2 linked regions of the Homo sapiens genome follow. The protein of the gene in region 1 purifies or fractionates together with the protein of each later gene. This does not show direct contact. Each region holds a gene or a part of one and is shown in the gene's direction. Other genes may lie near its edges.

What was found. Proteins that work in one complex are often made in the same cells at the same time.
Region 2: the proteins of OR10H3 (region 1) and CYB5A purify together in Homo sapiens (affinity purification with mass spectrometry, with the first as the bait; one large-scale study listed by BioGRID). This does not show direct contact.

What each region holds. Positions count from the first base shown.
Region 1 is NC_000019.10:15,736,763-15,740,784, forward strand, and holds the start of OR10H3 (olfactory receptor 10H3), read left to right. Parts: upstream 1-1,222; 5' UTR 1,223-1,289; intron 1,290-4,022. UniProt on the Homo sapiens protein: Odorant receptor.
Region 2 is NC_000018.10:74,285,464-74,288,963, reverse strand, and holds part of CYB5A (cytochrome b5), read left to right. Parts: intron 1-3,500.

The sequences.
Region 1 (4,022 bases):
TTGATTCACTGGAATTGTAAATATAATACAATATTATATTATTGAGTATTATTAAGTATTGAGGTTATAATTTGAGGATGAATTGACACCATTAGCACATCAGGCCATCCCAGCCAAGACTCTATACTGCTCCCCATGTGTTCAGATCATCTTCTACATTTTTATTAGTATGTATTTAAAATTTTTTCTTTGGAGCTATGTCATGTTTTTGGTTAATTCCTAGATATTTTATAGCAGATTTTTTCAAAGTGTGACATGAGGACCTCTGCAGAGTGGTCCCTGAAATCCTTATTTTTCAAATTTACATGTGAGAATATATTTTCATCATATGCTTCAATATATTGCCACAGACTGAATGAAGAGGCAGATGAAACCATCAAGCTGTTTCCTGCCAAGCTAGGACATATGAGGTATTGGCTAAAATGTCAAACAAGGCCACTCTTCTCATGAAATGCTTTTTTCCTAATGTGATTATTTGCCTGAAAATGTTTCCCATATTAGCATTCAATAGACTTACTATTGCTCTTTAGAAATTTTTTTTTGAGACGAAGTCTCACTCTGTTGCCCAGGCTGGAGTGCGGTGGCATGATCTCGGCTCACTGCAATCTCCGCCTCCCGGGTTCAAGTGATTCTCTGGCTCAGCCTCCCAAGTGGATGGGATTACAGGCGCGTGCCCCCATGCCCAGCTAATTTTTGTATTTTTTGTAGAGACCTGGTTTCACCATGTTGGCCAGGCTGGTCTCAAACTCCTGACCTCAAGTGATCCACAAACTTCGGCCTCCCAAGGTGCTGGGATTACAGGCGTGAGCCACCGTGCCTGGGCATGCTTTTTTAAATATACTAATAACTAAATATTTTTAATAATTTTCAATTTTCATTTCCAATATGGTAAAAATGGATAGTTCTAAACCACATAAACAAAAGCCCTTTAGAGTGCTTAGTAACTTTGAGGTGTAAAGGGATCCTGAGCGATGTTTCTTTATATTAATAGTTTGTGTTGCTATTGGGACTGTTCTCTTTCTCTGTATTCAGATTATACTTCTTGAATGCTTGTTACTGGTGTGATACTAGGAGGATCACTGGGGTTTTTGCCAGCTGACCTTGCCTTCTGCATCACTGGGCTCTGTTGCTGTTCTAATACATGATGTCATCATTCTTTCATCTTTTCTAGGTAGATGATCACGTCTCTTCCCTTCCAGTCCTTAGATACCTTAGATAACTTGTTTCTTTCCCTTACCTTATACCATCACTCACGAATTTCAGCTCCATGTTAAAGAACAGCGGAATTAGTGAGTATCCTTGGCTTTTTCTTGACTCTAAAGTGATGCATGGAAAAGTTTCTTCTTCAGTGTTGTATTTGCTAATTTGTGCTATATATTCTATATCTAGTTAAGAAAGTCTCCTTGGATTTTGTGTTGTGAAGTGTTTTTTTTTAAATCATAATAGGAGTAGGGTTTTAGAGAATGTATTTATGCCTTGATTGAAATAATCATGATTTTTCTTTTTAAATCGATTCCTGTGATAAATTGTATGATAGGTTTTCTGATGTTAACCAATCTTGTCATTTATGGAATAAACCAATGCCACTTGATCATGGTAAACTATTTTTAATACACCATTAGATTTGAATAGGTTATGTTTTATTCTGGAATTTTAAATCTGCCTGGATAGGTGAAGTAGGCCTATAATTGTCTCTTTTTCTCGGTGAAGATTCTTGCCTGATTTTAGACAAAGATTGCATTAACTTGAGGAGATGTGTTTGTCAGATTTCCTAACTCTTTTCTATTTTTTTGAAGATCATGTGTAAGATTCTAACCAACTGTTTTTTTTTTTAACAGTTTAATAGTACTTACCGCACTTTAATAAAACCCACTGGGGCAAAGATTTTAGAGAGACGATCTTTGACTACCGTTTCAATTTCTTTAAAGCTTATTTGAGCATATAGCATCCCCTTTTTTCTTGCACCAGTTTTGGAATTTTATATTTTTCTAAGTACTTGTTCATTTCATCTACAATGTAAATTTGTTATTTCTTTTACTATTTTTATTAATTTAAAAATATCAATTATCTCTGTAATTATTTCCCATTTGTAATTTTGGGTTCTGTTATTGGTACCTTCTCCTTGTTTATCTTATTAATTTTTTCCAATAACTTGATTTTGATTTTATTATGCATGATTTTTTTCTTGAGGCAGTTTTTTGATAAAGGTATTTTGAGCTGTATATTTCCTTCAAAGTACTATTTTAGGTTAAAATGTTGACATTCAATATTTAAATTATCATTTAATTCTAAATATTCCTCCATTTTATGATTTACTGTTGAAACTGTAGATTATTTAATTATATAGTTATCTTCCAAACACATGAGATTTGTAAAGCTATTTCTTCCCTATTGATTTTTAATGTTAATTCATTATAATCTATATCATATTATTATGCTTTGGAATTAAATAAATTTTTATATTCTAATGAAATGTCCATTTTTGTAAAAGTCGCTGAGTGGTTGAAAGAGTGTTAATTTTCTTTTTGGTGAAGAGTCTAATATATATAATAGCTAATGTCTGGATATTATTAATTGCTTTGTAATTAATAATTAATAAATTGCATTTCTGAACTCTGTTAAAATTTCTAACTATAATAATCTATCTGCCAGGTGTGGTGGCTCACACCTGTAATCCCAGCACTTTGGGAGGCTGAGGTGGGCGGATCACCTGAGGTCAGAAGTTTGAGACCAGCCTGGCCAACATGGTGAAACCCTGCCTCTACTAAAAATACAAAAATTAGCCAGGCGTGGTGGCACGCGCCTGTAATCCCAGCTATTAGGGAGGCTGAGGCAGGAGAATCAGTTGAACCTGGGAAGGGGAGGTTGCAGTGAGCCGAGATTGAACCATTGCACTCCAGCCTGGGTGACAGAGCAAGACTCCGTCTCAAAAAAAAAATAATCAATCTGCCGTCGATTTGGCTATTTCTATCTATCTCACTGAAGTTGTATTGATTATTTGTTAATGAATATTCCAGGATATATAGTTACATGGATTTATAGTATTGATGCTGTTTGCTATGTTCTTTTAATGGGTATAAATGTTATTCTCTGTCCCTTAGTGTGTGTGCATGTGTGTGTGTGTGAGATGTAAAAATCTTGGTATGCATTGAAAAACTAAACATTTACCTTCATAGTCAAAATAACCAGATAACACTTACAAAAATAATTAGCTGAGCATGGTGGCTCATGTGTATAATCCCACCACTTTGGGAGGCTGAGACAGGAAGATTGCTTGAGGCCAGGAATTAGAGACCAGTTTGGGCAACAAAGCAAAGCCCTGTCTCTACAAAAAAAAAAAAAAAATGTTTAATTAGACAGGTGAGGTGGCACACATCTGTAGTCCAGCTATTTAGGAGACTGAGAAGAAGCATAACTTGAGCCCAGGAGTTCCAGGATGCAGTGAGTCATGATCCTACTACTGCACTGTAACCTAGGGGGCAGAGTGAGACCTTGTCTCTAAAAAATTCACAATTAGATCAATAATAATGCTTTAATATTACTCATACGTAATCATTCATTCATACTGTAATCAAAATGTTCTCTATTGCCTTAAAATACTTACAGCTGGTTATGTAGATCAAGATTCAACTAGTCCCCTATGTTGCATCCAGTTACTATGTCCTGGAATCTCTCTTATCCTTTCAATATACCTCTATCAGTGAAACCAGACCAATTGTTCTGTGGAATTATCCACCTTCTGGATTTTTCTGAAAGCTTTCTCATTATATAATTTAGCTTGTTCCTCCATCTTCTGTACAATGATTATTGTTTTTGACTAGTGGGCATCTTTTCAATCTGGTACCTGCAGGCTTTTAATATTATCCCATTACTTAGTGAAAATTTCATTTTACACTGGTAGAAGATGTCCAAGGCTTTCTTCCATGTCCAGACCACAGATCAGCCATGTGTTAAGGAACTCTACTTCCCTGTAGAGGTGTATTGTATTAGAGACCTTGCGATCATTGTTTCCTTAAATTCCA
Region 2 (3,500 bases), on another chromosome or scaffold:
GTTCTGGGAACAAGCAAGGCCACTTAGCCTTTCACTGGATTGTGTCTGACCTCTGGGCACCTCCCGATTCGACCTCTTATGGACGTGTTTTTCCATTTGCCGTCTTTATTATTTGCTTTGACTTTCTGTGACCATCTCTTGCTTATTGCATGTCCTGGTCATTGGCTTCCCAGCCCCCGGCAAAGCCTCTGGGAGCCTCTCTCTGGGTTCTATCTGAGACTCTAGCCAGGATTCCTTGCAGGTGACTTCCTGTGCTCCTGGGGTTATATCTCCAATAAGCTCACTCGCTCAGAGCTCTTCAGCACACTGCCCTGCCAGGTAGTTTGTTATGAGGCTAGTCTGTTTGTCTGAAACGTACTTTTAAAACAGAAATGAGTGCAGAATGTCTCTGTCTCTCTTCCCCGCTTGCCCGATCCTCTTTCCTGTCTTCTATTGTTGAAAGGCTCCAGAATTTCATGAAGCCTTTGTGTGTTAACTAACAAATATTTTATCTCACCTAATTTACCTAAATAGGAAAGATTTATCTTCTCCTTCTAACTCTCAAATGAACTTTCAGTCATTATGGGCTAGACCTTTGTTTACTGTGAGATCCCCCATCCGTATGGACAGGATTTCTCATGGCTGAGTATTTCCCCTTCTTTCAGAATGTCCTAGATTTATGTGCATGTCCGTGTTCATGTTGAGAAGGTGTGTGGTGAGATGGTGGAGGGATCCTGCTCTGCTGGCAGGTACAAGCCAAGAACACAGGTTGAAGCTCACAGGTGCAGCATGTGCTCCGACCTCCTGAAATAATGGCCACTAAAGCTGTTTTTGTTGTTTAGGCGGAGGGGTAGAAACCTAAGAGGGAAGACTGGCTTATTATTAATGGCAGTCGACATAGCAGCAGGTGCTTAGTTACTGTCTGATACTTAAAAGATTTTGAGCTTTATTGCCTACATATTTTGAACTAGATTTTTTTTTCAATCCTGAGTTCTAGTTTTTGAGTTTATATTTGTGAAATTGAGTCTTTGCTTGATCATAGAACTTTAAGGGACAGTTATTTGAAATGAAAACTTAGGCATTTAGGACCAGGGGGAGAAATGTTTGCATTTCCCTTTCTGTGATTTGGGCAGCAGCATCTATTCAGTTTTTAAAAGAGCTGTGGAGGGGAGAGAGAAAGGTATCCTGTAATTAACAACACTTCCATTAGCTGTTGCTTTTGGTTCAAGTCAGTGGGTGTTTGATTCGTGAAATAGATACTGTCCTGGAAAATTTTATAAAGCAGAATGTCTTTTTGTGAAGTTGTCTCCTCTCCCTTTACATCATAAAAATGGAAACTTGCTTCTGTAGAACATTTTCTAGTGTTCCTGGGATTCTGATAGTCTTGGACCTGAGCCTTAAATGTTCTTTACAGCATTCTGCCTCATAGAAGCTATTGGCTCCTGACTCACTTTGATTTTTGGAGTCTTAAAAGTGTCCTTTCTAGCAGGTTTTATTGTAGGGACTTGCTCTTTGTTATTTTCCATTGAACATGGCTGCCTATGTTGCGTAGACCAGTGGTTCTAAGGCTTGGGAATCGAGGAAGAGAGTATGGGTGCTGAAATTCATTGCCCTTAATTTTGAAAAACATAGAACACGTATCTTTACCCTTGTTAAAGCTACCATATTTAGGGCTAAAATACTAAATGCCTTTGCTTTTTGCAAGAAAATTTGATAGTATTCTGAATCTCATGCTACTAAAGGCTGCAGTTGGCAAATATGCCTTTGATGCATGTAAAATGGGAACATTATTATTATTTAATATATACCGTTAGGTAAATAAAACTTAGAAATTACAGAGTCTGTAGAAGGGAAATATAAAGTTATTGTTGGTAGTGTTGGTGGCTTAGGCATCTTGGGTAAAGTGGTAGTAAAACCACATCTTAGAAGGCCACCTGGGGAATGTGAACCCGTGAGGCTTTTGTATATTTCTATATATATCTCTATATTTTTTGGTAACCTGTTGCTACTTTTGAAAAGAGGTTCCAAGAGGCAACTTTGTTTTGAAACAGTAAAGAAAACAGTAAAGAAACAGCAAATTAACTTTTGCTTTTTGATTATCTTAAAGGTTGATGAAAATTGTAAATAAGGAAGGGAAAACACATGCAAGCCGGCTTTGGTCAATCAAGGAATAAATAACATGCACAATTTTACTGAATGTGAATGTCTGGTATTCTGAAAAGTCCTCCTGGTGAAGATGGCTGATAAGTGCCTTTGTAGTTGAGTGGAGTCTGAACAACCCTGTCCCGCTGGGCATTCATGGGAAAGCACTGGGCTGGGGTTAGGAAAACTAGACCTGGTCTTAGACATATCATGGAGGTGACCTTGGGCAAGTCAGGTATTTCTTTCAGTCACTTTCCTTGTTCTGAAGTGGGAACTATTCTGTCACTGCCATCTGCATTGGGAGAAATGATATATGTGAGAACACTGGAAAAAATATGTAGAGAAGGCATTTAAGTGACTATATTTTGATTGAATTAAAATTTTAAAATAAATTGTTTTTATGTGGAAGGTCCATTTAGTAGGAACATATCTCAGGAATTATAGTGTTAACTAGTAAACAAAATGACTCAAAATACAAATATTCACATGAAATATAATTGTTCAGGAATGTGTGCTTTGCAAGATTGGAAATCATCCCATTTCAGGAGCTTTTAAACATACAACTTTATTGTGTAAGGGGAAAATAATACATGATCATGTTAAGGAAGTGGACAGTGTGGAAAACTGCAAAGAAGAAACTCAAAGCTGCCTGGAGCTCTGCTCCCCGAAGGTGGCCAGCTTGAGCAGTTTGCACACTCACTACTACAACACCTTGCTCGTGGATGTGCTTTACATCCATGGAAATGTGCTCTGCATGCTGCTCTGTAATCTCCCTTTTTCCCCACTAAACTAGGTGTTGAGGGACCAGTCCTGAATTTCAGTAACTCCTGTTCCCAGGCTGCCTCCTTATTGTATAGAGGGATCCTAATATACGGAATCCTCTTTCCTTCCATGTTTTTAGGTTCCCACCTGCAATTACCTCCTTATGGTAGATCTTTGTAAGTGGGATTCTTGGGTGAAAGGATGTACACTTCTACTTTTTTTTTTTTTTTTTTTTTTGAGATGGGGTCTTGCTGTGTTGCCCAGGCCGTGGTGTGATCTCAGCTCACTGCAGCCTTGACCTCCTGGGCTCAACCAGTCCTCCCTCTGGAATAGCTGGGACCACAGGCATGAGCCACCATGCCCAGCTAATTTTTGTATTTTTTGTAGAAATGTAGTCTCTTGTTGCCCAGGCTGGTCTCGAACTCCTAGGCTCAAGTGATCTGCCCCCTTTGGCCTCCCAGAGTGCTGGGATTACAGGCATGAGCCACTCTAAATTTTGATGGATGTTACCAGAGCACCCTGGGGTGGCACACCAGTGTGTGCATTTCTCGGTTCTTAGGAGTGGAGGAACTTGGTTGCGCCTCATTCACCTCCCTTCCTGAATTTGGCTGTGTACT